Regions from separate parts of the Homo sapiens genome. Here regions 1, 3, 4, 5, 6 and 7 are each linked to region 2. Evidence: fine-mapped expression QTL. A gene starts in region 2. Each other region holds a variant in brackets. All regions are shown on one strand. Distances are between the middles of the regions.

Region 1 (4,091 bases), 26 kb before region 2:
CAACCAGACCTCCACCACACATATTTTCAGTGGGGAAATGCCTCTGGATTTTGAACAATCACTTACAAGTGAATTTCCATTAGGGAAAAAAAATTGTCTGGAAATTTACTTTCCTACCTTGTATTTATTTCCTTCAGGCCATGGAGTCCTTTATTTCCACGCCTCCCACTCTGTTAGGACTCCCTTGGGTGGGAGTGCCACCTAGTGCCACTGTGAGGCTCTGCAGGCTCTCAGGCCACCTGCAGATGGAGGCCTCCCTGCCTCAGTCAAGCCACCTGTATTCTCTGCCAGGTCCCAGCTGTGTGAATTTCATGCACTACTTCTAAGGGGATGCCCTGTGCCAGGGAACAGAAGGTAGCTGCGGAACAGGGGTAAAAGGTGTCCTCAGCTAATTCTCATTTCCTGGCTCTTGGCTAATTCTCATTCCCTGGGGGCTGGCAGAAGCCCCTCAAGGAAGATGGCTGGGGTCTTAACGGCTAGTACAAGAAACCACAGGCAGGCATCAGCCTCCCCAACGTCTGGGCAGAGAGGCCAGGCAAGCACAAAGTGCCTTCAGGCTATTTCTCTACACACCAGATTCTCCTATCCCTGCCCAACTCCCCACTCATCTTTGAGAATCGTTTTTGGCAGTCCCACTAGCCTGCAAGATGTCCCGGATACCCCTGGCACATTCAGAGCCCCACCAGCAGCTCCCCAAGGGCCCTGCCCAGGCACTCAGGAAGGGCAGACTGGGGTGGAATTCAGAAAAAGTGCTTTAGGCCAGACGTGGTGACTTAGTGTCTGTAATCCCAGCACTTTGGGAGGTCAAGGTGGGCAGATCACCTGAGGTGAGAAGTTCAACACCAGCCTGGCCAACATGGTGAAACCCCATCTTTACTAAACATACAAAAATTAGCCAGGTGTGGTGGTGCACGCCTGTAATCCCAGCTACTCGGGAGGCTGAGGTGGGAGAATCGCTTGAACCTAGGAAGCAGAGGTTGCAGTGAGCTGAGATTGCCACTGCATTCAGCCTGGGTGACAGAGCAAGACTCCATCTCAAAAAAAAAAAAAAAAAAAAATAGAAAAAGAAAAAGAAAAAGTGCTTTTAGGCCTGGCACGGTGACTCATGCCTGTAATCCCAACACTTTGGGAGGCTGAGGTGGGCGGATCACCTGAGGTCAAGAGTTCAAGACCAGCCTGGCCAACATGGTGAAACCCTGTCTCTACTAAAAATACAAAATTACTCAGGTGTGGTGGCACGCACGTGTAATCCCAGCTACTCAGGAGGCTGAGGCATGAGAATCGCTTGAACCTGGGAGGTGGAGGTTGCAATGAATTGAGATCGTGCCATTGCACTCCAGTCTGGGCAACAAGAGTAAAACTCCGTCTCAAAAAACAAAACAAAACAAAACAAAACTGCTTTTAGGTAGAGCCTCCTGGCAGACAGCTTCATGCAGGGCTGCAGGTATCTTGAGTCGGCCATCCCTCGATTCCTTCCAGCCCAGAAGTTTAGCCTTGTGTTTAAGTTCCATGTCTTTTTTTTGGAGACAGAGTCTGACTCTATCCCCCAGGCTGGAGTGCAGTGGAATGATCTTGGCTCACCACAACCTCTGCCTCCCGGGTTCAAGCAATTCTCATGCCTCAGCCTCCCAAGTAGCTGGGACTACAGGTACCTGCCACCACACTGGGCTAATTTTTGTATTTTTAGTAGAGATGGGGTTTCACCATGTTGGCCAGGCTCATCTCAAACTCCTGACCTCAGGTGATCTGCCTGCCTCCCAAAGTGCTGGGATTACGGGCGTCAGCCACCATGCCCCGCTGAGTTCCACATATTCTTGAGACACGGTCCCTCCGCTTGTCCACACACTGACCGCTCAAAGCCATTGGAGGTAGCTCCCAGGTGGGTCCTGGGCCACCTGGGGGCATGGCTGTATGAGCCACCGTTCCGCCCTCTGCGATCTCCTCCTGCCCTAGAGTGAGCCCACAATTCTCTGAGGTCAGAGCTGGCCCCTGCCAGCCAGTTCCAGTGGCATAAGAACACTACAGGAGTTCAGGTGGCACTGGGGCAGGCAGGAGGCTCTGCTTCCCTGCCAACTTGACTATTTGCCCATTTCCACACTCACACCTATTAGGTAAGAAGTAAAATAGTACTAAAGCTCCACTCCCTGCCAGCATGGGGCCAGGTATTTACATACACATCACTCTTATTTAACAACTTTATGAGGGCATGAATGGCCCTATTTATAGATGAGAATAATAAAGCTACAGCATGTACATCGCTCACCAACATGGAGAACACGTCCGATACTGCCCACTACCAGGTACACCGCGGCGCCAGGACGCGTGCTGAGCACAGGCCCATGGGGCTCCAGGAAGGGGACAGGGAGAGAAGGAGGACACAGGCCACTTCACAGGGTTCTGCCTTATGCTTAGGCTGAATGGTGGTAGACCAGACAGGCTGATCTGTCTTTATTCCTTTTGATGAATTGGAATACTGTACTATACATTTTTTTTT[T/A]ATTCTAAACGGAGGCTAGAAACAAGGAAGCAGCGCTCAGACAGGAGTGAGCATACCTGCAAGCCCAGCTGAGTAAGGCCTTTCCTGCACTGCTGCTCCCCAAACACCTCAGCCCTTGCCACAAGCCCCCAGGGCCATGCCTCAAAACAATAAAACCACCTTCCGGGTTCAAGCGATTCTCCTGCCTCAGCCTCCCAAGTAGCTGGGATTACAGGCACCCGCCACCACGCCCAGCTAATTTCTGGGTTTTGTTTTTTTTTGTTTTTGAGATGGAGTCTCACTCTCTCTCCCAGTCTGGAGTGCAGTGGCACGATCTCGGCTCACTGCAAGCTCTGCCTCCCAGGTTCACACCATTCTCCTGCCTCAGCCTCCCAAGTAGCTGGGACTACAGGCGCCCGCCACCACGCCCGGCTAATTTTTTGTATTTTTTTTAGTAGAGACGGGGTTTCAACGTGTTAGCCAGGATGGTCTCGATCTCCTGACCTTGTGATCTGCCCACCTCAGCCTCCCAAAGTGCTGGGATTACAGGCATGAGCCACCACGCCCAGCCTAATTTTTGTATTTTTAGTAGAGACGGGGTTTCACCATGTTGGCCAGGCTGGTCTTGAACTCCTGACCTCGTGATCCACCCATCTCGGTCTCCCAAAGTGCTGGGATTACAGGTGTGAGCCACCGCGCCCAACCTTTTCCCTTTTTTTAAAAAGATTACATATTCGTTGGGCGCAGTAGCTCACGCCTATAATTTCAACACTTTGGGAGGCCAAGGCAGCTATATCACTTGAGCCCAGGAGGTTGAGACCTGCCTGGGCAACACGGCAAAACTCTACAAAAAAAAATAATAATAAATAAATTAAAAAAAAAAAAAAAAAAAAAATATATATATATATATATATATATATATATATATATATATATAGAAAAATTAGCCGGGCATGGTGGTGCACGCCAGTAATTCCAGCTACTCAGCAGGCTGAGGTGGGAGGATCGCTTGAGCCTGGGAGGTTGAGGCTGCAGTAAGCTGTGATCACACCGCTACACTCCAGCCTGGGCAACAGAGCAAGACTCTCTCAAAAAAGAAAAAGTTGTGTTTTTTGTTTGTTTTTGTTTTTTTTTAAAAGAGGTTACATATTTACCATTAAAAATCTCTCACTGGCCCTAAACTGGCAACAGTCATCTAACCCTGGTCTCACGCCACTCTGAACCGGACCCTCCTCTGTACTTCCTCCTGCACCAGCTCGCGGCAGCCACAGGGCTGTTCTGTTCAGACCTGAGAGACCCATTCAGGCACTCACGCTGGGACGTGCATGTCACTTTACTCCAGTGACTGAGGACCTGAGAACTCCTTCGTCCTCCATTTTCCAGAGCAAAGAAGAAACAGTGAAAGCTACAGAAAAGCATCTCTGCTTTTGTGAAAGCACAATTCTCTTCCCATGCTGACTCAGTCTGGGGAAGAGGTCAACTTTTGGATCCACTCTTCTGAAGAAGCAAGTGTCCCGCTCCCCTCACCCGGCACTGGCTATCTTGAATCAGTGAAGAGGAAAGCTCTTCACTCCCTAATGTCACGTCCTACACATTACAAGCTCTGACTGAAATTTCT
Region 2 (4,091 bases):
ATTATCACCCAAGATGTTATCTATCACCTGTCACACATCACCCAGTTATTGAAAAACTTACCTGAAATATAAGGTTTTCATTTACATGTCTCACAAATAGGCACTGGTTTACTAAAAACCCACAGAAATGTTATCTTTTTGGTTTGTGTATTAATATCATTTCTATCTTGATATAGAATACCTTTGAAAATTAAGGTTTCTTATTGTACCCAAATCTTCATCTCTCTCACCCACTGCATCTAAGTCTAGCCTTATCTATCTACACTGGTACTAAAACATAGCTTTTTTTCTTTCCCTTTTAATGATGGTGACTGAGGTACAGCCTCCTCTCATCATTTAAAAAAATTATTTTAGGTGGACTGCGATGGCTCACTTCTGTAATGCCAGCACTTAGAGAGGTGAAAGTGGGTGGATCACTTGAGCCCAGGAGTTCAACACCAGCCTGGGCAACATGGTGAAACCCTGTCTCCACCCCCACCCCCAAAAAAAATGCAGCTGGGCGGGGTGGCGTGCACCTGTGGTCCTAGCTACTCAGGAGGCTGAGGTGGAAGAACTGCTTGAGACCAGGAGGTGGAGGCTGCAGTGAGCCATCATCACACCACTGCACTCCCTCTTGGGCAACAGAGTGAGGCTCTGACTTCCAAAACAAATAACAACAACAAAAAACAATTTTTTAAGAGTCTCATTTTAGTCCTTTCAATTCGTGACACACTTTATTTATTTTTAATTTTTTTGAGACAGAGTCTCACTCTGTCGCCCAGGCTGGACTCCAGCGGCGCAGTCTTGGCTTATTGCAACCTCCGCCTCCCAGGTTCAAGCAATTCTCCTGCCTCAGCCTCCCAAGTAGCTGGGATTACAGGTGCCTGCCACCATGCCCGGCTAATTTTTGTATTTTTTAGTAGAGACAGGGTTTCACCACATTGGCCAGGCTGGTCTCGAACTCCTGACCTCAAGTGATCCACCCACCTTGGCCTACCAAAGTGCTGAGGTTACAGGCGTGAGCCACCGCGCCCAGCCTGTGACACACTTTAAATGAATTCAGGGTTGACTCATACACAGCACGCCTGGTAATAACATTGAAAACAAAGTCTCCTGCCCAAATTCTAACAGTTACCACCACAATGCAGAGCCCTCTCCTGAGAGATAATCATTTCTGTACAGTTAATGATGAAAGAGTGACGCTTTCATAACAAGACCAATGATGGTTTCTGTTCCCTCTCAGTCCAAATCCAGTGTCCGTCTCCTCCCAAAACAATAGGTTATCCTCTGATCAACGCTGACAAAATGAACCCTGTAGGAAACACACAAGTATGGCGCATCTCTCAAATCTTAGCTCTTTGAAATGACACCAGGCAGCCGACTCTGAATCACAGCTACATTTTAATCCATTTTCCGACACTCCAAATGCTCTAAGCTATTTTCTGTATAACCACTGCCCTCACGGCGGGCAGCCTGAGAGAAAGATCGTCGCGTGAGGGGGTACCTTGATGGGGGTCCGGGCTCTGCTACAAACTGGCTAGGTGAACTTGAGCAAATCCCTCCCTCTCTCGGAGCCTCAATCTCATTAACTCCAAAGAGAGACAGCTGGACTCAGAAGACCCCTCAAGTCTCCCACATTTCTAAGAATCTAACAGCTGGGGGTCACAAGGGTAACCAAGACTCTAGCCCCATAACATATTGTTTTGAGATTACCTAACCTAACCCTCTAGCTTCAAAGACTAAGATCCAGAAATGAAAGTTGCCTGACACTCAATCTAGTGTCCTTCCCACAGGACATCATTCCTTCTACGAAAACGAACACACGAGAAAATGGCATCTGAACATCTGAAAGCCCTGCCTCGACTCAAGAGACGGGCAGGTAGCCTATTTCATCTGATTTTTGTCCCTCGTGAACTTCCACCTAGCTGGAAAGGGCAAAGCGCGAGCTTCTAGGCCACACCCTAAGTAAATCCGGACCGCCCTACGCAGGAGCAGTCGCACCTGCTCCTAAGCTCGAGGTGAAGGTGGCTCCGTCTCCACCCGAGCTCGCCTCAGAGCGAGCCCGCGACACAGAAACATCTCTCTTCAGACCCCAGCTTGGTCCAGGTTGCCCCACGCCCCAAGGTAGTCTCTCCGCGCTGCTATACCTGCTCCGCCACGGCGCGACCCCGTGCAGTAATCCCAGACATCGGTGCCCCACGGACGTCGCCATCTTGTCTGCTCCTTCTCAGCGTGCCACGCCCCCTTCACACGCTGGGCGCACGCTTAAGGCGTCACGAGTCTCGAGTTCAGTGGGCCAATGAGAAAAGCGCGGGTTGGGGGCGGAGCCGACTAAGCTCCGCCCTGTGGCTACTCCCCACCTAACCCGCTTGGCACCTGCGGAGGTAGGGGAACTAGTGGAGCTGTAGGTTTCGCTAAACCTGGGCTTGGTCGCAGCACTGCCACTCCTCCTCCTTCCCTCTGGGTGCCTTTCCTCATGTACCTGGAAAATCTGAGTCATCCAAGATCCAAGAATGTCGTTTCAAGTGATCGAACTTGCTCATTTTACGGATGGGGAAACTGGGCATCCATGACTCAGCTCTCGTTTTTTAAGCGCCGGAGTGTGTTGTGAGCACTTTGCAAGCATGGTGTCATATCATTCTTATCTCCTACCGCTGTGCTGCCAGGGAGACCGGGGGCAAACGGTCTTGGATCACCTAGAAATGCAACCAGTCGTTAAATTCGGTGCCTGGTGCTTGCTCTTGAAAAGGTTCCTATCTTCAATTGTAAGAGGAAAACGAGTTTTCAATCATGTCTGCTACTTTTTACTGAGCACTGACTAGAGACTCGCAGCTAGGCCCGAGACATTATCCCCATTTTAAAGATGAGGTACCTGAGGCTCAGGAAGGTTAAGCAACATCTTCAAGGGTACATAAAGGGCATATGCCCAAAGACTATAAAATAGTGAAGCCAGAATTTGAACATACGTCTCTGACTCCAAAAACCATGTCCTAAACATCTTCTTCTTTTTTTTTTTTTTTTGAGACAGAGTCTCTCATTGTCGCCCAGGCTGGAGTGCAGTGGCGCGATCTCGATTCACTGCAAGCTCCGCCTCCCGGGTTGACGCCATTCTCCTGCCTCAGCCTCCCGAGTAGCTGGGACTACAGGCGCCCGCCACAACGCCCGGCTAATTTTTTTATATATATTTTTCGTAGAGACGGGGTTTCACCATGTTAGCCAGGATGGTCTCGATCTCCTGACCTCGTGATCCGCCCGCCTCGGCTTCTCAAAATGCTGGGATTACAAGCGTGAGCCACCGCACCTGGCCTAAACATTCTTCCTTTTAAGCCCTTTGTCAGAATCTGGCAGAATTTGGGTCCAACAACTGAAGGAATGCAGCCCTACTTTTTCATCTGCTAAGCTGATAATCACAGTTGCCTTCACCAGGCATTTGACAGGAGGAGGAATATGCTCCCTGGTCCCTGCAGGTATTTCTGTGTAGTTGGCTTAAGTTCAACTAGGGCATACTCAGCTCCTACAGAGAGCTTAAAAGGCACCAGGTTTGGTATTGGGGGGAAGAAACCTCCCTTTGTCATGGTTTTCAAAAGTCGGAAAAGAAAAAAACAAATGTATAGAATTGGTTTTGGCCGGGCGCAGTGGCTCACGCCTGCAATCCCCACTCACTGGGAGGCTGAGGTGGGAGGATAGCTTGAGCCAAGGAGTTGAGACCAGCCTGGGCCGGGCGCGGTGGCTCACGCCTGTAATCTCAGCACTTTGGGAGGCCGAGGTGGGCGGATCACGAGGTCAAGAGATTGAGACCATCCTGGCTAACACGATGAAACCCCATCTCTACTAAAAATACAAAAAAAATTAGCCGGGCGTGGTGGCGGGCGCCTGTAGTCCCAGCTACTCTGGAGGCTGAGGCAGGAGGATGGCGTGAACCCGGGAGGCGGACTTGCAGCGAGCCGAGATCGCGCCATTGCACTCCAGCCTGGGTGACAGAGTGAGACTCCGTCTCAAAAAAAAAAAAAAAAAAAAAAAGGAAGTAAAAAAGAGACCAGCCTGGACAACATAGTGAGACTCCATCTCTTTTTTTTTTTTTTTAAGAGGCTGGGCACCGTGGCTCACCCTAT
Region 3 (4,000 bases), 880 kb before region 2:
CTGTTTTCATTCCCCGAAGACATAAAATACCACATCTCAGAGGCAGGGAGTCTCATTCAGAGAGCTTTTTTTTTTTTTTTTTTTTTTTTTTTTTTGGTGACAGAGTCTTGCTCTGTTGCCCAGGCTGGAGTGCAGTGGTGTGATTGCAGCTCACTGCAGCCTCCAAACCTCCACCTCCTGGGTTCAAGCGATTCTCCTGCCTCAGTCCCAAGTAGCTGGGACTACAGGTGTGTGCCACCATGGCCGGCTAATTTTTGTATTTTTAGTTGAGACGGGGTTTCACCATGTTGGCCAGGCTGGTCTCGAATTCCTGATCTCAAGTGATCCACCCACCTTGGCCTCCCAAAGTGCTGGTATTACTGACGTGAGCCACTACGCCAGGCCAGAGAGCATATTTTGTCTAAACATAAATTAATAACTGCAATACCGATAATACTATTGCTTCCCAAATCTGCCTGGTCATGTAAAAGCTTTGCCGTTGGGAATGCTGGCATAAGAACGCAACTTACGGCGATTTCTTAGAAATAGAAAAACCATGACACCTTGATGCAAATGTGCCTCTTCTCAACCTGGCGCTCTTGCTCGCAACATTGCCCCTTGACCCTGGAAGCTTCCTAGGGCAATGCCTAGTTAGGTAAACCAACTGGTGCTGAAGAGGAGAGCTTGGGTCTGGGAAATGCCCATTGTAATCACTTGGGACCGTGTTACTTGAAAGTGGCCTTCAGCATGTATCTGCAGAATGATTGTTTCCTTCCAGGAAGAGGCTTCAGAAGCAGGGATGGCATCTTTACGATTGACGTAGGTTTCTATGGTCCTGTCCTGAGTGGGTAGTTTCATAGAGGCCTCTGTTTTTTAAAATACTGCAGATACAAATCCTAGATTTTCATTCTTAGCACTAGAATGGCATCTCCAGAAACAGATTTATGTATTTGTAGGAATTCACTTAGTGATAAAAGTACCATTCAAATCACTTGGAAAAGAAGGAACCATTCAACAAGTGTGATTTATTTATTTATTTATTAATTTATTTATTATTTTGAGACAGGGTTTCTGTCACCCAAGTTGGAGTGCAGTGGCATGATCACAGCTCACTGTAGCCTTGACCTCCTAGGCCCAAGTGATCCTCTCACCCCAACCTCCTGAGTAGCTGGGACTACAGGCACATGCCACCATGCCTGGCTGATTAAAAAAAAAAAATTTTTTTAAAGACGAGGTCGTGCTATGTTGCCCAGGCTGGTCTCAAAGTCCTGGGCTCAAGTGATCCCACTACCTTGGCCTCTCAAAGTGCTGAGATTACAGGGATGAGTCACCGTGCCCAGTTGACAAGTATGCTTTTAATTGTATCCTTCTGGAATTTGTTTTTCTGCAAGTTGTGAGAAAGGCATCTAATTTTTATGTTTTCTAAAAGTGTATCTGATTTTCTCAATAGCATTTACTCTGATTTTGAATACTCGTCTTCACTGACATTTTATCAATTCCTGTGCCTAATTACTGTAGCTTTATAATATAATTTGACAGCTGGTAGAATAAATCCTCCTCATTTTTTTTTTTTTTGAGATGTGTCTTGCTCTGTCGCCCAGGCTGGAGTGCTGTGGCACAATCTCAGCTCACTGCAACCTCCACCTCTCAGGTTCAAGCGATTCTCCTGTCTCAGCCTCCTGAGTAGGTGGGATTACAGGCATGCACCACCATGTCTGGCTAACTTTTTTCATTTTTAGTAGAAATGAGGTTTCACCACGTAGGCCAGGCTGGTCTTGAACTCCTGACCTCAGGTTATCTGCCCACCTTGGCCTCCCAAAGTGCTGGGATTACAGGTGTGAGCCACTGCACCCAGCCTCCTTTACTGTTCTTTAATTTTTAAAATGTACTGGAGTTTTCTCTTCCATGTAAATGTTAGAATCAGCTTAAGTTGTATTAAAAATACCTCATTGGGATTTTGTTTGGTATTACATTTTAATTGTAGATTTAAACTTTCCTCTGTAACCAATGTAATGTGGGCCCTGTTTTGGAGCAGAGAGTACCTTGCACCCATTAATGCTTAATCTTTCCGGCCCGGCACAGTGGCTTATGCCTGTAATCCCAGCACTTTGGGAGGCCAAGGCAAGTGGATCACCTGAGGTCGGCAGTTTGAGACCAGCCTGGCCAACATGGTGAAACTCCATCTCTACTAAAAAAAAAAATTAGCTGGACATGGTGGCTGGTGCTTGTAATCCCAGCTACTCAGGAAGCTGAGGAAAGAGAATCACTTGAATCCAGGAGGTGGAGGTTGCAGTGAGCCAAGATCGCGCCATTGCACTCCAGTGTGGGTGACAGAGTGAGACTT[C/T]GTCTCAAAAAAAAAAAAAAAAACAGGCTTAATCTTTCTGATTTAGAAAGTTTGCTTTCTTGCTAAATTTTATAGAGGTTAGTGATATGATTTGGCTCTATATCCCCACCAAATCTCATCTCAAATTGTAATCCCCACATATCGAGGGAGGGAGCTAGTGGGAGGTGACTGGATCATGGGGGCAGATTTCCCCCCTGCTGTTCCAGTGATAGTGAATGAGTCCTCATGAGATCTGGTTGTTTGATAAGTGTCTGGCACTTCCCTATGCTCCTGCTCTCTCTCTCCTGCTGCCTTGTGAAGAAGGTGCTTCTTTCTCCTTTGCTTTCCACCATGATTATAAGTTTCCTGAGGCCTCCTCAGCCATGCAGAACTGTGAGTCAATTAAACCTCTTTTCTTTATAAATTACCCAGTCTCAGGTAGTATCTTTATAGCAATATGAGAATGGACTAATACAGTTTGTGTGTGTGTGTGTGTGTGTGTGTACAGAAGTCTCGCTGTGTTACCCAGGCTGGAGTGCAATGGCACAATCTCGGCTCACTGCAACCTCCACCTTCCAGGTTCAAGCAATTCTCCTGTCTCAACCTCGAGTAGCTGGGATTACAGGCGTGTGCCACCACACCCAGCTAATTTTTTGTATTTTCAGTAGAGATGGAGTTTCACTATGTTGGCCAGGCTGGTCTCGAACTCCTGACCTCCAGTGATCCACCTGCCTCAGCCTCCCAAAGTGCTGGGATTTCAGGTGTGAACCACTGCACCCAGCCTCAGTTAGTGTATTTTAAGTCAGTTAATATTTACAATAAATATTGACTGTACATCTCTCTGTGCCAGACAGCACTAGGAGGTGAGGAGTCATGGAAAACAAAAATCAATGACACCTGCCAGAGACCCCACTGCCTGCTGTGGGGAGACAGACAAACCAATACAAAATCATGATGCAATGGCCCAATGCTTCACCATGGTGAAAGGCACCTAGCCCAGTTTTGAGGGTCGGGAAGGTTGCCTAGAGGAGGTGATATGTAAGCTGAGATCTAAAGGGTGAGGAGGAATTCACTTGTTGAAGATAGGAGGAGTACAATTGAAAATGAGGCCCAGAGGTTGGGGAGATCCTGGCTGTTCAGAGAGCTAAAGACACCTCATTGGTGGCAGGAGCAGAGGGTGGGGGTGGGGTGGGGTGGGGTGGGGATGCCTCAAGATGAGGCTGGAGAGACTAGCAGGGCAAAACATGCATCAGGAAAGGTGTTTTGTTTTGTTTTGTTTTGTACAGTCTTGCTCTGTTGCCCAGGCTGGAGTGCAATGGTGCAATCTCGGCTCACTGCAACCTCTGCCTCCCAGGTTCAAGCGATTCTCCTGCCTCAGCCTCCCAAGTATCTGGGACTACAGGCACGTGCCACCACACCAGGCTAATTTTTTGTATTTTTAGTAGAGACACGGTTTCACTGTGTTAGCCAGGATGGTCTCGATCTCCTGACCTGGTGATCCGCCTGTCTCGGCCTCCCAAAGTGCTGGGATTACAGGCGTGAGCGACTGTGCCCGGTCAGGAAAGGTCTTACCAGTCAGATTCTCCACCTGTGTTAGTCCGTTCTCACACTGCTAATAAAGACATACCCAAGACTAAGTAATTTATAAAGGAAAGGGGTTTAATAGACTCACAGTTGAGTATGGCTGGGGAGGCCACA
Region 4 (4,000 bases), 390 kb after region 2:
TAGTAGCACATGCCTGTAGTCCCAGCTACTCAGGAGGCTGAGGCACGAGAATTGCTTGAACCCAGGAGGCAGAGAGAGGTTGCAGTGAGCCAAGATCGTGCCACTGCACTCCAGCCTGGGTGACTGAGTGAGACTTTGTCTAAAATAAATAAATAAATAAATATATATATATATATATATAATCATTATATATATATAATCATTATATATATATAATCTATATTATATATAATCTATATCTATATCTATATCTATATCTATATCTATATCTATATCTATATCTATATCTATATCTATATATATGATGATTCCAGCAACCTGCTACCTACACCCTCAGAGAGGAAAGACTTGAATTTGTCTGGTCTTTTATTTAATATTTAGTACAAATGCCTTGCATTCTTAGAGCATTTTTTCACTTTTCTGGTAACAAAGATATAACTCACATCCCATATGGTACTTTTTAAAAGTATGATATTTCTTTTTCTTTTTTTTTTTTTTGAGATGGGTGTTGCTATGTTGCCCAGGCTGGTCTTGAATTCCTGGGCTCAAATGATTCTCCCACCTCAGCCTCCTGAGTAGCTGGGATTATAGGCACATGCCACCATGTGGCTGTAATCCCAGCTACTCAGGAGGCTAAAATAAATATAGCATTCATTAGGAACCTCAATATGCTTGTAAGAAAGGCATAAAAAGTTCCATTCCTGCCATTTAACAGACAAGCAAGCAGATCCAGGTGGAGTGACTTGCTGGAAGTGATACTGGAAGCTAATTTCGCACTAGCCCTACAGTAAGCTGTATGTATCTTCTGAGCCTCAGTTTCCTTGTCTGTCAAATGTAGGTTCCTGCCTCCTTCATCTAAGTCTTTTGAGGCTGCAGGGGAAGAAGGAATGTGAAAGTGTTTCAGAAAGTGGAGTGGGTAGAAGAAGGTGCACGAATGGGGAGGTATGTCCTTTTGGCTGGCAAGGCCACTCTTCTAGTTTTCGATTACATTTTTGACCCTTTCCTCCTCAGGCTATGTTTTCCACCAATCGTGGGACTGTTGGAGGCTTCTTCCTGGCAGGCCGAAGTATGGTGTGGTGGCCGGTAAGTTTTCTCTGAAATGCTATTTACATAACTGCTTAACTGATACTCCCTTTAGGAACTCATTTTCTTCTTGGCTTTGGGTGGTGGTGATTCTAGGATTCAAGGATCCCAACCAGATTCTTGACAGTGAGTCTCATGCTCATCGGGTCTCCTGGGCACCCTTAATCTCTTGTAGTAAGGGAATAGCCTTTAAATAAATCACCCTTAGAGTCCTTCAATAAAATACAAAGTTGGTTCAAAGCCTATCATTGGTCCATAAATCCATAACCAGAATATTAGTTCTCAAATGCGCTGGCCCAAGGAACATATCACAGGGGTCAGAGGCTCTCCACTGCTGACATCTCACTTGCCCTTTGCCCCTCCATCTGCCTTTATCCCAGTCGCTTTGTGCCACAGGAAGAGTGGGCAGCAGAGAAGCTTCTGGAAGAAGGAACAACTTGTATTGACCTGGGTTGATATACCTGAGACAGAGAGGGTTTGGGTTGTCACCCACAAGAAAAGTAGGAGAAAATCAGAGCTCATAAAGTCTGAAAACATACTGGATAGAGGAGAGACTGGTTTTGGGCATTCCTGGGGTTTAGGGGGCTTTGAAAGGAGTGGTTATGACCTGAAACAGGTGAAGATTCAGAAACTCTGGAAACAGACTCTGTTCCTGAAAACTGAATGAGGCCCAGAGAGAAAAACAGTTTGTGTGTTGGCTTGAGGATAGAAGCAAGGGACAATCAGAGGGAAGGAGCAAGGACTCCAGGATTGAAATTACAAGAAGAGTCAGCTTACATAGGGATCTGGGCTGGGAGGTCCCCGGAAGCCTGAGTCATGCTTGAGGCAAGCCAAGGCAACTCATCTGAGTAACA[T/G]GAAACCATGAAACTGTACCTTACGTAACTGTGGGCTGGTTGGTGGCCCAGGATTCCCTTTTTATGTGGCACCAGGGTTTGCCACGTTTCACTCACAGCTGTCTGTGCGGAGATGTGATGGTAGGAAAGCTGTGAAGCTCAGGGGCTGAGCTTCGAAGGGGAATTCCCCACTCTTTGGATATTGGCAGCAGAAATTACACAGAGAAGTGAGGCCCCAGGTACACAGCCCAGTGAGAGACTCTTGTTTTGGAAGAGAGTTTGATCACACCTACCAGGACTACTGGCAGAGCCAGCTCCATGGGATCAGCTCCCTTAGATTCAGAAAGAAGCATTCCAAAGGGCAGGGAGTGGGAACTGCACAAGGAGCCACAGGATTTGGCTTGTTCCAGCTTTGTGACATTGGGCAATTCATTAATCTCTGAGTCTCTGAGAGTCTCCTCTATAATGTGGAGCTGGTCAGATAAGGAATCTCAAAGGCTCTTCCAGGACTAAAATTCTAAGTTTCAGCTAGGCACAGTGACTCACACCTGTAATCCAGGCATTTTGGGAGGCAGAAGTGAGAGAATTGCTTGAGCTCAGGAGTTCAAGACCAGCCTGGGCAACATAGCAAGATCTTATCTCTACAGAAAAATTAAAAACTAGCTGGGCGTGGTGGTGTGCACCTGTAGTCCTAGCTACTTGGAAGGCTGAGGTGGGAGGATCGCTTGATCTGGGAAGGTGAAGGCTACAGTGAGCCATGATTGCATTACTGCCTTCCAGCCTGGGGGACAGAGTGAGACCCTGTTTCAAACAACAACAACAACAACAAAAACCCCAAAAAACAAAAACAACAACAACAAAAATCCCAAACCCAACAACAACAAAACAACAACAAAATAGTTGACAAACTTTTTCTGTAAAGGGCCAGATTCTAAATATTTCTAGCTTTGCTGCTATGCAATCTCTGTCACAACTATTCCACTCTGCTGTTGTAACACAAAAACATCCAAGGAAAATGGATGAATGAATGGATGTGGCTGACTTTATTTGCAAAAATAGGTGGAGGGCCAGATTTCTTGTTTTGAGGACACACACAGACAGTCTCAGAACAGAGCCTGGCACACATTAAACCCTCAGGTTTAGCTCTTGTTCTTCTTTGCAACTGAAACCTATTGAAGGACTGTCATATCACTTATCTGATTGAATCCTCAATGATCTAGTGAGGTAAGTAGAGTGAAGATGATGATTAACCCCATGGGTTGCCCACGTTTACACAAGATAATGACAGAGCTAAGACTTCCTCTGATCTTCTGGTTATTCAGGTCTCTTTCTCCTTGTCTTTTGAGATGGAAATTTATGAGGCCAATTGGTGTGGCCTAAAGATTGGTCTGAAAACCAAGAAATTATTTCATTTGGGGCCGACCAGAGACCCTGATGAAAATTTTCCCTGAAGAAAGAGGACAGGTTCTCAAACTTTTCAAGTCCTCTTGGGTAAAATATATCTGATTTTATCGTTATGTTTCTAAAACCTAATGATCAGGTCAAAGTCCAGCCACTTATGATGTCACCAGAGGGGCCAAAGGGTGTCTTAGAAAAACCTGGTAGTCCCAACACATGGGTGGGGAGCTCATGAATTGGAGAGGAAGAGAGGGAACCAGGCAACTGGACATGAGAGAGGCAGGGATGCACTCCAGGAAGAAGTGAGAAGGAAAGATAAGTACTTGACTCTTCATAAGCCTGGGGGAAACAATTCCTACCTCTTCTGGCCCAGGTCCATTTGGCCCTCTCTCCCTGCTCTACTTGCTTTTTACCTGCATGTGCTCTTACTTATCCCAGTGCCCTGTGATGAGAGCTAGGCCTACGCTTTTCTTAATTTTTTTTTTTTGGCCTCACAACACCAAGGCCTTGCACTGCAAGAAGGCACTTGACAAATATGGGCTGAATTAAAGAGAAATGAGGGAGAAGAGGGACATGTCCCCAGAACCTCATGCTGGTCCCCCTTAGTGGTGTCACCTGAGACCTGAGTCTATATTCTGGCCTCTGGTGCAGGGGCCACACAGTATAGACAGTGGTAAGAATTCAGG
Region 5 (4,091 bases), 180 kb before region 2:
GTCTCACTATATTGCCCAGTCTGGTCGTGAACTCCTGGACTCAATTCATCCTCCCACCTTGTCCTCCCAATGACTTTTCATACCATAATTCTACCTTCTCCAACATAAATAGGTATCCTTAAATTAGTTTAAGAAGTTTATACCTAAATTTGTCACAGAAATGCCACCTGAGTTACTACTCAGTTTATAAAAGATACATTTAGTTATCAAATAAGATTTCTGTACTGGAAAAAGGGACCACCTGATTCCTGTTTCAACCTAGGATTTAAATCAGTTACTCTTTTCTCTGGGGATTGGCTTCAAGTCTTCTGATTATATCCAAGAAGGCTAGGATGACTCAAGTCAGTCACTTCAACTGCTTGTCCATTTTCCTGATTGTTTTAAAGGAAAGACAAACATGGCTGTACTGACTGCTATGACCAATTGGCCTACCAGCCACAAATTAGGATGGCCTCCCTTAAAGATCCCTGGAGACACTAATGACTACAATAATGCCACTTTGTAACTAGTCAAGGTTATGAGGAGTCCACATGGGGCCAGATGCAGTGGCTCACACCTGGAATTCCAGCACTTTAGGAGGCTGAGGCAGGAGGATCGCTTGAGGTCAGGAGTTGGAGACCAGCCTGGGCAACATAATGAGATCCTATCTCTACAAAGAAATGAAAAAATTAGCCATGTGTGGTGACACACACCTGTAGTCCTAGCTACTCAGGAGGCTGAGGTGGAAGGATCGCATGAATGCAGAGTTCGAGGCTGCAGTGAGTTAACTGTACCACTGCACTCCAGCCTGGATAACAGTGAGAGCCTGTCTCAAAAAAAAAAAAAAAAATTCCACATGAAGTTAAACTAAGATAATTCAACATTCACTTAACTTTAATACGCATGTTTAACACTGGTCAGTATCAAGCTGAATGTTCTGAGTGTCTCTGCTTTTATTCCCTGTCCAACTGGCAGGTGACAGTCATTTAATAAGGAATCAGTGGCAAAACACAGGAGCAAAGGAAGAACAGCATAACGTATGTATCCTTTATAAGATTAGTCTATTTGGCCGGGTGCGGTAGCTCACGCCTGTAATCCCAGCACTTTGGCAGGCCACGGCAGGTGGATCACTTGAGGTCAGGAGTTTGAGACCAACCTTACCAATATGGTGAAACCCCGTTTCTAATAAAAATACAAAAATTAGCTGGGCATCATGGCACGTGCCTGTAATCCCAGCTACTCAGGAGGCTGAGGCAGGAGAATTGCTTGAACCTGGGAAGCAGAGGTTGCAGTGAGCCAAGATTGCAACACTGCACTCCAGCCTGGGTGACAGAGTGAGACGCGGTCTCAAAAACAAACAAAAAAAAACAGATTAGTCTATTCACTTGACGAAAATAACATGGATGTGAGGCCAGGCGTGGTGGCTCACGCCTGTAATCAGAGCACTTTAGGAGGCCAAGGTGGGTGGATCATGAGATCAGGAGATCGAGACCATCCTGGCCAACATGGTGAAACCCCATCTCTACTAAAATGTAAAAAAAATTAGCTGGGCATGGAGGCACGCGCCTGTAGTCCCAGCTACTCAAGAGGCTGAGGTAGGGAAATTGCTTGAACCCGGGAGGCAGAGGTTGCAGTGAGCCGACATAGGGCCACTGCACTCCAGCCTGGCGACAGACAGAGACTCTGTCTCAAAACAAAAAAACAGAAAAGAAAACCACATGGATCTGAATAGTGGGATGGCCTAAAACATTTCTATTTTGTATTTCAAGCAGAAGATGGCATCACTAACAGAATAGCAGGTACTATATTCCAGAACTGGTGAACAAGGGCTTCTGGTGAAGAAAAAGTTGAATGAGCACCACTGCCAGGAGACGAT[C/CT]TTTTTTTTTTTTTTTTTTTTTTGAGACAGGGTCTCTTTTTGTTGCACAGGCTGTAGTGAAATGGCGCGATGATGGCTCACTGCAGCCTCAAACGATTCTCTCACCTCAGTCCCCTGTGTAGCTGAGACTACAGGCAATACGCCACCATACCTAGCTAATTTTTAAATTTTTTTTGTAGTGACAGGGTCTTGTCATCCTGCCCAGGCTGGTCTTGAACTCCTGGGCTCAAGCAATCCTCCCATCTCAGTCTCCCTAACTGCTGGGATTACAAGTGTGAGCCACCACACCCAGCGAGCAGGTGATCATTTCTTAAGCCAATGGTTCTCAAACTTGAACCAGAGCCAGAATCCCCTGAAGAGCTTGTTAAATGCAGACGGTTAAGCTCTACTCCCCAAGTTTCTCCTTTAATACCACTGAGAAGAGGCCTGAGATTTGTATTTCTAACAAGTTACCAGATGATGCTAATGCTAGTTCAGGGAGCACACTTTGAGAACCACTGTCTAAACCACTCTTAAACCATAACTTTCAGGTGAGACCCCACTCTATAACCTCCAAAAGTCCTTCAACATGATCCGATCACTTTAAAAATGCATACTTAGATACTACCAAAATATAGCTTTTGGTCTTAGGAATGTGGCCTAGAAAACAGACCAGCATTTATAACTTAGGGGTTCAAGACCCTCAGGGTAACAGGTGCATATGATAAACCCATTTATAACCATCCCACAATGAGATTTAGGAGTAGGTCTGAATGCACCCAATGTGACTCTAACTTGAGGTCCTAAAATATTCTTCGAAGCACAATGAACATCATCTGAACCCCAAAGAATAACTATGCATCTGAGTTACTTGACACCACCAACACCATTTATCAAGTTCTCTAAGGAAGACCAAAGCCTTGATACTTAAAGTATAGTCAGTGGACCAGCAGCATGTGCACCACTTGGGAGTGGGTTAAAAAGTAGAATCTTCAGGACCACCCCTGCTTACCACTCAGAATTCCTTTCCCAAGGCCTAAAGGTGATCCCCCAGGCATATTAACATTTGCGAAACAAGCTAACTAAAGGATGTCTTCACACAAAAGGAAACTCTGGTACATTACTCTGAAAAGCACCTGACCAAAACATTTATACTTCTTCTACTCATGGGGGAAAAACAAAAACTCTTCGAATTCTGAACAACAAACTACTAACATTATCCCAGAAAGCAACTGAACACTAAACTAAGAAGGGTCAATGGTTAAGGGGCCCTCTCATCTGGCCAACGTGTTTTTTTGACCCTGTAAGTAAACATACACAGCTACAAGTTTCCACAGAATACACCACCTATTTAAAAAAAAAAAAAAATCACCGGCCGGCTCACACCTGTAATCCCAGCAGTTTGGGAAGCCAAGGTGGGCGGATCACCTGAGGTCGGGAGTTTGACACCAGCCTGACCAACATGGAGAAACCCTGTCACTACTAAAAAGACAAAAATTAGCCGGGCGTGGTGGCGCATGCTTGTAATCCCAGCTACTCAGGAAGGTGAAGCAGGAGAATAGGTTGAACCTGGGGCGGAGGTTGCGGTGAGCGGAGATGGCGCCATTGCACTCCAGCCTGGGCAACAAGAGTGAAACTCCACCTCAAAATCACCAGTGAAAACAGTTTCCCTCTACTGCTTCTAGATCTTCTAGCCCGTGAACTTGAAGTGGCAGAAACATCATTAAAGTCTATTTATTCCAGTACTTTGATCTCAGTACATAGACAAGGAAGAAGGATGGTTTGAATATTATTCCAGTTGTGGAACTAACATATTTATTATAGTGCTAGGAACACATAATCATTTCAAGCTCTCTTTAAAGGGAGAAGACTTCTTTATCCCCAAGTCCCGCATAGAATTACTAGAGTGTTGAAAACCATGAAAGCACTACCCTAACACTGCCTAAACACTATCCTAAAATTGTCATTAACTAAATCCTCTTAAGAGTAGAAAGTAAACCTATTTCCAATTAATTTGGTAGAAAAGACTTAAATCTAAGCTCCACTGTCATTAAGCTAAAAAATGCTTTTAACCAGTTCTTCAAGGCACATTTATCTACGTATGACAGAATTCTGAGGCTGGACTGTCAAAAATGGACAATACTGAGGTTCTTAATCTTTACTGCAAAGAAACATAAGTCCTACCCTAAGAAAGAGAAATATCTCCCTAAAAATGATGTAAGCATAAAGATAGAAACATACACAAAGATGAAATATA
Region 6 (4,091 bases), 68 kb before region 2:
CGGGCAGAGGCGCCCCTCACCTCCCAGACGGGGTGGCTGGCCGGGCAGGGGGGCTGACCCCCCCCACCTCCCTCCCAGACGGGGCGGCTGGCCGGGCAGGGGGCTGACCCCCCCACCTCCCTCCCGGACGGGGCGGCTGGCCGGGCGGGGGGCCGACCCCCTCACCTCCCTCCCGGATGGGGCGGCTGGCCGGGCGGGGGGCCGACCCCCCCACCTCCCTCCCGGACGGGGCGGCTGGCCGGGCAGAGGGGCTCCTCACTTCCCAGTAGGGGCGGCCGGGCAGAGGCGCCCCTCACCTCCCAGACGGGGCGGCTGGCCAGGCGGAGGGCTGACCCCCCCACCTCCCTCCCAGACAGGGCGGCTGGCCGGGCGGGGGGCTGACCCCCCCACCTCCCTCCCGGATGGGGCGGCTGGTTGGGCAGAGGGGCTCCTCACTTCCCAGTAGGGGCGGCCGGGCAGAGGCGCCCCTCACCTCCCAGACGGGGTGGCTGGCCGGGCAGGGGGGCTGACCCCCCCCACCTCCCTCCCGGACGGGGCGGCTGGCCGGGCAGGGGGCTGACCCCCCCACCTCCCTCCCGGACGGGGCGGCTGGCCGGGCGGGGGGCCGACCCCCTCACCTCCCTCCCGGATGGGGCGGCTGGCCGGGCGGGGGGCCGACCCCCCCACCTCCCTCCCGGACGGGGCGGCTGGCCGGGCAGAGGGGCTCCTCACTTCCCAGTAGGGGCGGCCGGGCAGAGGCGCCCCTCACCTCCCAGACGGGGCGGCTGGCCAGGCGGAGGGCTGACCCCCCCACCTCCCTCCCAGACAGGGCGGCTGGCCGGGCGGGGGGCTGACCCCCCCACCTCCCTCCCGGATGGGGCGGCTGGTTGGGCAGAGGGGCTCCTCACTTCCCAGTAGGGGCGGCCGGGCAGAGGCGCCCCTCACCTCCCAGACGGGGCGGCTGGCCGGGGGGAGGGCTGACCCCCCCACCTCCCTCCCGGACGGGGCGGCTGGCCAGGCGGGGGGGCTGACCCCCCCATCTCCCTCCCGGACGGGCTGGCTGGCCGGGCTGAGGGGCTCCTCACTTCCCAGTAGGGGCGGCCGGGCAGAGGCGCCCCTCACCTCCCGGACGGGGCGGCTGGCCGGGCGGGGGGCTGACCCCCCCACCTCCCTCCCGGACGGCACGGCTGGCCAGGTGGGGGGCTGACCCCCCCACCTCCCTCCCGGACGGCACGGCTGGCCGGGCGGGGGGGCTGACCCCCCACCTCCCTCCCGGATGGGGCGGCTGGCCGGGCGGGGGGCTGACCCCCCCCCACCTCCTTCCCGGACGGGGTGGCTGCCGGGCGGAGACGCTCCTCACCTCCCAGATGGGGCGGCTGCCGGGCGGAGGGGCTCCTCACTTCTCAGACGGGGTGGTTGCCAGGCAGAGGGTCTCCTCACTTCTCAGACGGGGCGGCCGGGCAGAGACGCTCCTCACCTCCCAGACGGGGTCTCGGCCGGGCAGAGGCGCTCCTCACATCCCAGATGGGACGGCGGGGCAGAGGCGCTCCCCACATCTCAGACGATGGGCGGCCGGGCAGAGACGCTCCTCACTTCCTAGATGTGATGGCGGCTGGGAAGAGGCGCTCCTCACTTCCTAGATGGGATGGCGGCCGGGTGGAGACGCTCCTCACTTTCCAGACTGGGCAGCCAGGCAGAGGGGCTCCTCACATCCCAGACGATGGGCGGCCAGGCAGAGACACTCCTCACTTCCCAGACGGGGTGGCGGCCGGGCAGAGGCTGCAATCTCGGCACTTTGGGAGGCCAAGGCAGGCGGCTGGGAGGTGTAGGTTGTAGTGAGCCGAGATCACGCCACTGCACTCCAGCCTGGGCACCATTGAGCACTGAGTGAACGAGACTCCGTCTGCAATCCTGGCACCTCGGGAGGCCGAGGTTGGTGGATCACTCGCGGTTAGGGGCTGGAGACCGGCCCGGCCAACACAGCGAAACCCCGTCTCCACCAAAACCAGTCAGGCGTGGCGGCGCGTGCCTGCAATCGCAGGCATTCGGCAGACTGAGGCAGG[A/C]GAATCAGGCAGGGAGGTTGCAGTGAGCCGAGATGGCAGCAGTACAGTCCAGCTTCGGCTCCGCATGAGAGGGAGACCATGGGGAGACGGAGACGAGGGAGAGGGAGAGGGACAGGGAGAGGGAGAGGGAGAGGGAGGTGTCCATCTTTATTTCAAGGGCTTTCAAAACAGCCTGTTTGTAACCTTCATTATTAGCCACTGAGAGCTCCATTAAAGCAGCCCATTAGCTTTCTGGATCAGAGCACGGTGGGACCTTGCCTCACCTTGGCAGACATTCTTAAGTGTCATTTCCCCGAAACACTTAGTTCCTGTTCTGCTAGACCTGGCTTTTTGAAGTCTTGAAATGATAGTCATCAACAAAATTACAAAGGTCGGGCCGGGTGCAGTGGCTCACACCTGTAATCCCAGCACTTTGGGAGGCCGGAGCGGGCGGATCACAAGGTCAAGAGTTCAAGACCAGCCTGGCCAACATGGTGAAACCCTCTCTTTACTAAAGATACAAAAATTAGCCCGGTCTGGTGGCACATGCCTGTAATCCCAGCTACTCGGGAGGCTGAGGCAGGAGAATTGCTTGAACTTGGGAGATGGAGGTTGCCGTGAGCTGAGATCGCATCATTGCACTCCAGCCTGGGTGACAGGGCGAGACGCCGTCTCAAAAAAAAAAAAAAAGAAAAGAAAAAGGCCGGGCCTGGTGGCTCATGTCTGTAATCCCAGCACTTTGGGAGTCCAAGGCGGGCGGATCACGAGGTCAGGAGATCAAGACCATCCTGGCTAACACGGAGAAACCCTGTCTCTGCTAAAAATACAAAAAATTAGCCGGGCGTGGTGGTGGGCGACTGTAGTCCCAGCTACTCAGGAGGCTGAGGCAGGAGAATGGCATGAACCTGGGAGGCGGAGCTTGCAGTGAGCTGAGATCACACCACTGCACTCTAGCCTGGGCGACAGAGTGAGACTCTGTCTCAAAAAAAAAAAAAAAAAAAAAAATTAGAAAGCTCAAGGAGCAGATCTACATCTTTTTAGTTCCCACAGGGACAAACTTGCCCACAGCAGGTTCTTAGTATATGGTGGGACATAATGAAGAAATAATAATAATTTATTTATTTATTTATTTATTTATTTTTGAGTTGGAGTCTTGTCCTTTCGCCCAGGCTGGCATGCAGTGGCACCATCTTGACTCACGGCAAACTCCACATCCTGGGTTCAAGTAATTCTCCTGCCTCAGCCTCCCAAGTAGCTGGGATTACAGGTGTGCGCCACCACGCCCGGCTAATTTTTTGTATCTTTAGTAGGGACGGGGTTTCACCATGTTGGCCAGGCTGGTCTCGAACTCCTGACCTCGTGATCCACCCGCCTTGGCCTCCCAAAGTGCTGGGATTACAGGCATGAGCCACCACGCCCAGCCTGTAATGAAGAAATTATTAATCACTAACTGTATGTCTGCCACTGTGTTGGGCATTGTGTGATGGGAGACAGAAAACAAATACATAAACTCATTCTGCCCATGGCATCATTATCTTCATTAATAATTTCCTTTTCACAGTGATTCTGAGAGGTCAGGTTCAAAATGATAAATGGTAACACAACCAGTAAGTGGTACAGCCAGGTTAATTCACATCTCCAGTTCCAAAGTCCAGGTGCTTTCTTCTTGATCAAGAGGAAGATCTTTTTGATGACTTTGTAGGAGGGTGAAATTTTTGTGAGGAGATAAGAAACAACTGAGAACCAATTCAAGAGAACAGATCCACGTGTCCCCAGTCATGTCAGCCACAAGTTCTTCCAGTGCTCAGAGCTAGTGCTGAGGGAGACTGAGCATGGAAGTATCTGGGAGAGGCTTCCTGTGAGTGAGAGGGTGAGGATGGTGGCTGGAGTGGGCAAGATGGGGAGGCCCAGACTGAAGAGATTGGGCTGACCCTATAGATAGATATTCGAAAGATATTTGAGCAGGTACATGGAACTAGTAAAATGACAGTTTTGGAAATTACCTTAAGTTCAGTGTACTTTATCTTAGGACAGAGGGGTGAGATGGAGGGGCATGCATTGGGAGAAGTT
Region 7 (4,091 bases), 56 kb before region 2:
TTCTTTCAGATCCTAGGCTGTTCTTATTTGAACTTACTGCATCTAAAATTCCTGATCTAACCATTTACAGGAGTCCTACGTCCTACTGAGTGTAAAACATGTTTAAACTCACATTAATTGAGCTTTTACCGCAAATCAAGCACTTACCTCATCAAATCATCACAGAACCCCTAAGAAGCACGTATTTATAGATGAGGCCAGAGAGGTTAATTTACACTCACACAGATGATGTATAAAATGGAGGCAAAGCAGGAAGCCACCCCCAACTCAGACCCCAGCCCACGGTAGCTGCTTTCTCCTCTGTCTGCAGTGCCTGGCCCTGCGGGGAGCGGAGCGGCAGAAGCTGATGCGAGCAGACCTGCACCACCAGCACAGCGTGCTGCACAGGGCGCTGCAGGCATGGGTGGTAGGAACTGCTGCTTCCCTCCTGATCTTGCTGTGGGGACAGGGGAGGTTTCTGGAGACTTTGTTTTCCTTCCTTGTTCTTCCTGTCCGTCCCAGAACAGAGTCACGTGACACACCTCAAACCAAGCAGGTGCCCCGGACAGCGGGCCTTAGGCCATAGGGTTCTTTGATTCTTGCTTGGCCAAGTGGAAACAAGTGCTGTCTGTGGGTACTAGCCTTGTAGCGAAAGCAGCTCCTTTCCCTGGAGTCCCATGGTTTGACTTAGGAGGTGAGGGCCTGTGAGACAGTTTCTCCCTGTCGTCTGGGAGGGTCTGCTGGCCCTGGGACCAGGGGCTGTTGGCCTCTTCCTACCCTTTTTGAGTTCTCTGGGCATGGCAGCCTTGTGGTAGATGCACCTCTGAGGCCTGCCTAAACAGGGGGAAGTGTGGGCCCAAGAGCAGCCTCAGTCTTCCTTGTCCCCTACAGACTTACCAGGGCAGGGTGCGAAGCATCCTCCGGGAGGTGGCAGCCAGGGAGAGCCAGCACAACAGGCAGCTGCTGCGGTGAGTCTCCCGGGCGCCTCCCAAGCTCCAGCTGGGGAACAAGGAATGCACTCCAAACCCCAGCCTTTTAGGGGGTCCTGCTGAGGGCCAGGTCGGGGATGATCCCGGGTTCCTAGTCGCTAATATCATGGTCTTGGCTTTTCCACTTCACTCACGGGTTCGCCTTCATGTCTTAAGCCCCTGCTGTGTGCAGGGCAGGACCTTGGAAAGCAGCTGTTACCTGCATGCCTTAAAGGCCACTTGTCTTGCTCTTCTGAGCACTTTTTCCTCCCTGCTTCACGCCTACAAAATTCAGCTTTGCAAGGCACCTTGTCATCTCTTCCACTCCAGAGGCTTCAGCGACTCCCTTTCCTGTCAATTTCCAAGTAGTCCCCTTCCAGCTTGCTCTGCAGGCCTGTCACTGACTCTCCAGCGTCACCTCTAGGCCCTGTCAGACCATCTGCACCACTCACCCCTGTGGAGGGTGCTTCTGCAGCTTCTGCCACTCTTTCTAAGCCCAACTCTAACCTCACTCCTTCCCAGCAGTCCTCCCACATGCCCCCTTTCATTTCCTTCCTTTGTATTTGTTCAGCACATGATACTCCTGGTGGCCTATGGACAGTGGGTCTCGTGGACTTTAAACACCTCCATCCTTAGCTGGGCGCGGTGGCTCATGCCTGTAATCCCAGCACTTTAGGAGGCTGTTTGACACCAGGAGTTTCAGACCAGCCTGGGCAACATAGCGAGACCTTGTCTGTACTAAATATAAAAAAAATTAGCTAGGCACGGTCATGTATGCCTGTGGTTCAGGTACTTGGGAGGCTTAGGTGGGAGGGTCACTTGAACCTTGAAGGTCAAGGCCACAGTGAGCCGTGATTATGCCACTGCACTCCAGCCTGGGCGATGGAGTGAGACCCTGTCTCTCAAAAGTAAATAAATAAAATAAATGCCTCCATCCCTCATATGGAGTCCCATAGAGCACCCATCCCGCTCTTCAGACAGGGTGGAATAAGCAAGAACTCCCTGAGCTAACTCAGCAGCAAGCTGAGGCGTAGGCAACCTTCCTCCAGGTTCCCTGTCTCTCCACACTTCTCTTATCACAGTGTGAGTCACCTGTGTTGCCACTGCCTGGTTATGCCCTGTTATCCCCGTAGCACCTGGAGTTTGGTCTCCAGCAGTGCTGGGTCCCTCATGCACTCTTGGTGCCCAGCCCAGAGCAGCTGCTCAGTAGCCATTTGTTGGACATAGATGTGCAAGTAAACATAGGTGTTGGTGAAACAGACATTCTTAGGTGTAGAGTCCCTGACTCAGGAGTAGGGGAAGAAGTAGGAATGATTCACAGAAGCCTCCCTTCTCTCTCTATCCTGGTGTCATCTGCCTTCC[T/C]CGCACCCATGCATCTGCAGCGGGGCATTACGTCGCTGGAAAGAGAACACCATGGCCCGAGTGGATGAAGCCAAAAAAACCTTTCAAGCAAGTACTCATTACAGAAGGACCATATGTTCCAAGGTGAGGTATAAGGAGGCAAGCTGGTCACCCAGGAGAGTTGGGACTGTGTTCTGGTGAGGGCGTGGGATGTAGGGGGTGGTGCCAGAGATTTGAACTGAATAAGGAACCTAGAAAATGGGTAACTTTCCTCCAGCACACACACAAACATCCATGTGGGCACATGTTTAGTTTTTTACTGAATTACAAACCAATATGCATTAAATAGAAACATAACACATCATAAGTGAACTAGTTCTTATCAGAACCAGTATTTTCTTTTTTTCTTTTTTTTTTTTTTTTTTTTTTTGAGACAGTCTCACTCTGTCACCCAGGCTAGAGTGCAGTGGTATCATCTCAGCTCACTGCAACCTCCATCCCCCAGGTTCAAGCGATTTCTCCTGCCTCAACCTCCCGAGTAGCTGGGACTACAGGCTTGCGCCACCACGTCCGACTAATTTTTGTATTTTTAGTAGAGATGGGGTTTCACCACATTGGCTAGGCTGGTCTTGAACTGATGACCTCAGGTGATCCATCTGCCTCAGCCTCCCAAAGTGCTGGGATTACAGGCTCTTTGAATCCAGGAGGTGGAGGTTGCAGTGAGCCGAATTGCACCACTGCACTCCAGCCTGGACAACAGAGCAAGGTTGTCTCAAAAAAAAGAAAAGAAAAGAAAAAATACCCGAAGCTAGCCTGTGCCTCCCTTCCCCTGGAAGAAGGAACACAGGAATCTTTGCTTGGCTTCAGAGCTTGAAGAGGAGGCCTTTTTGGTGGGAATGGAGTTCATGACAGCTCGCAGAGCAGGCACCAGGCATTCCCTGGGCAAGTGTTTTGTTATTGTGATTTTGTAGGCATCACTCATACAAAAGAATGTATACGACGTAGGTGTGTTCCATTTACTAAATAGTAATAGAGGCCGGGCGCAGTGGCTCACACCTGTAATCCCAGCACTTTAGGAGACTGAGTCGGGTGGATCACTTGGGGTCAGGAGTTCGAGACCAACCTGGCCAACATGGTGAAACTCCGTCTCTACTAAAAATACAGAAATTAGCTGGGTGTGGTGGTGCATGCCTGTAATCCCAGCTACTCAGAAGGCTGAGGCAGGAGAATCGCTAGAACCTGGGAGGCAGAGGTTGCAGTGAACCGAGATCATGCCACTGCACTCCAGCCCAGGTGACAGAGCGAGACTATGTCTCAAAAAAAAAATTACATATATATATTTTATATATATATAAAAATAGAATTAAGACCCATGTATATAATGACTTCACTACTTTATGGCATGGTATGATATGTAAATCCTGGTAGAAGAGTCCCAGCAGCTGAAATGCTGGGCTTCCTGTGAGGGGCTGGGGCCCTGTCCTATTGCTCAGTGGTCTGCGTGCAAGGCAGTTACTTCCTGGACCGTGTGTGAGAAGCAAATGGCAACAGCTTGGCCTTGCCTCTCCAGGAGCCACCGTCACAGACCTGGGGTGGACCCGGAAGCCAGGAGGTATAGTGACTCTTGCTGTGCTCCTTGCCTGCCCATAGGTCCTGGTCCAGTGGCGGGAAGCTGTGTCAGTGCAGATGTATTACCGACAGCAGGAGGACTGTGCCATCTGGGAGGCCCAGAAGGTGCTGGACAGGGGTAAGTGGGGCCCCAGAAGCAAGTCATGTTGAGGAATGTGAAGACAGCGCTGTTGT

Direction of the effects. Alleles are on the strand shown, and positions count from the first base shown. SD is a standard deviation of normalised expression in the study named. Not every link is listed here.
In carriers of allele A in region 1, the expression in neutrophils of the gene that starts at base 2,198 in region 2 tends to be higher than with T alone (moderate effect, 0.52 SD a copy in CEDAR).
With allele C in place of T in region 3, the expression in monocytes after LPS of the gene that starts at base 2,198 in region 2 is lower (large effect, 2.0 SD a copy in Fairfax 2014).
As copies of C replace CT in region 5, the expression in monocytes after LPS of the gene that starts at base 2,198 in region 2 goes up (moderate effect, 0.43 SD a copy in Fairfax 2014).
For the expression in hippocampus of the gene that starts at base 2,198 in region 2, C is the high allele of the variant in region 6 and A is the other (moderate effect, 0.69 SD a copy in GTEx).

The links. PIP is the estimated chance that this variant, and not a neighbour inherited with it, causes the effect. A credible set is the group of variants that fine-mapping cannot tell apart.
Region 1: its variant is the best candidate, but not a certain one, in a credible set for the expression of PISD in neutrophils (CEDAR, PIP 0.82).
Region 3: its variant is the best candidate, but not a certain one, in a credible set for the expression of PISD in monocytes after LPS (Fairfax 2014, PIP 0.89).
Region 4: its variant is the best candidate, but not a certain one, in a credible set for the expression of PISD in whole blood (INTERVAL, PIP 0.62).
Region 5: its variant is the best candidate, but not a certain one, in a credible set for the expression of PISD in monocytes after LPS (Fairfax 2014, PIP 0.60).
Region 6: its variant is the best candidate, but not a certain one, in a credible set for the expression of PISD in hippocampus (GTEx, PIP 0.70).
Region 7: its variant is the best candidate, but not a certain one, in a credible set for the expression of PISD in cerebellar hemisphere (GTEx, PIP 0.63).

What each region holds. Positions count from the first base shown.
Region 1 is chr22:31,633,798-31,637,888 of GRCh38, forward strand. The region is part of intron 3 of PISD (phosphatidylserine decarboxylase); the gene reads right to left. Among named protein-coding and RNA genes, the nearest start is that of MIR7109, 14 kb to the left of the region's middle. RefSeq lists a silencer at 308-357. The variant T/A (reference allele first, on the strand shown) is at 2,495.
Region 2 is chr22:31,660,018-31,664,108 of GRCh38, forward strand. PISD (phosphatidylserine decarboxylase) reads right to left here and starts at 2,198. Exons shown (of 8, transcript NM_001326411.2): 1 at 2,127-2,198. The coding sequence starts at 2,191. RefSeq lists enhancers at 35-929, 930-1,823, 1,119-1,258, 1,232-2,431, 1,649-1,698 and 1 more.
Region 3 is chr22:30,783,238-30,787,237 of GRCh38, forward strand. The region is part of intron 2 of OSBP2 (oxysterol binding protein 2); the gene reads left to right. Among named protein-coding and RNA genes, the nearest start is that of MIR3200, 54 kb to the left of the region's middle. The variant C/T (reference allele first, on the strand shown) is at 2,324.
Region 4 is chr22:32,048,932-32,052,931 of GRCh38, forward strand. It overlaps SLC5A1 (solute carrier family 5 member 1), which reads left to right. Exons shown (of 15, transcript NM_000343.4): 2 at 1,012-1,083. Among named protein-coding and RNA genes, the nearest start is that of SLC5A1, 7.7 kb to the left of the region's middle. The variant T/G (reference allele first, on the strand shown) is at 1,938.
Region 5 is chr22:31,481,354-31,485,444 of GRCh38, forward strand. All of the region lies in intron 2 of EIF4ENIF1 (eukaryotic translation initiation factor 4E nuclear import factor 1), which reads right to left. Among named protein-coding and RNA genes, the nearest start is that of EIF4ENIF1, 6.4 kb to the right of the region's middle. The variant C/CT (reference allele first, on the strand shown) is at 1,856.
Region 6 is chr22:31,591,852-31,595,942 of GRCh38, forward strand. The region is part of intron 15 of SFI1 (SFI1 centrin binding protein); the gene reads left to right. Among named protein-coding and RNA genes, the nearest start is that of MIR7109, 28 kb to the right of the region's middle. RefSeq lists an enhancer at 792-1,600. The variant A/C (reference allele first, on the strand shown) is at 2,043.
Region 7 is chr22:31,603,999-31,608,089 of GRCh38, forward strand. It overlaps SFI1 (SFI1 centrin binding protein), which reads left to right. Exons shown (of 33, transcript NM_001007467.3): 19 at 311-406; 20 at 871-947; 21 at 2,330-2,432; 22 at 3,939-4,035. Among named protein-coding and RNA genes, the nearest start is that of MIR7109, 15 kb to the right of the region's middle. The variant T/C (reference allele first, on the strand shown) is at 2,310.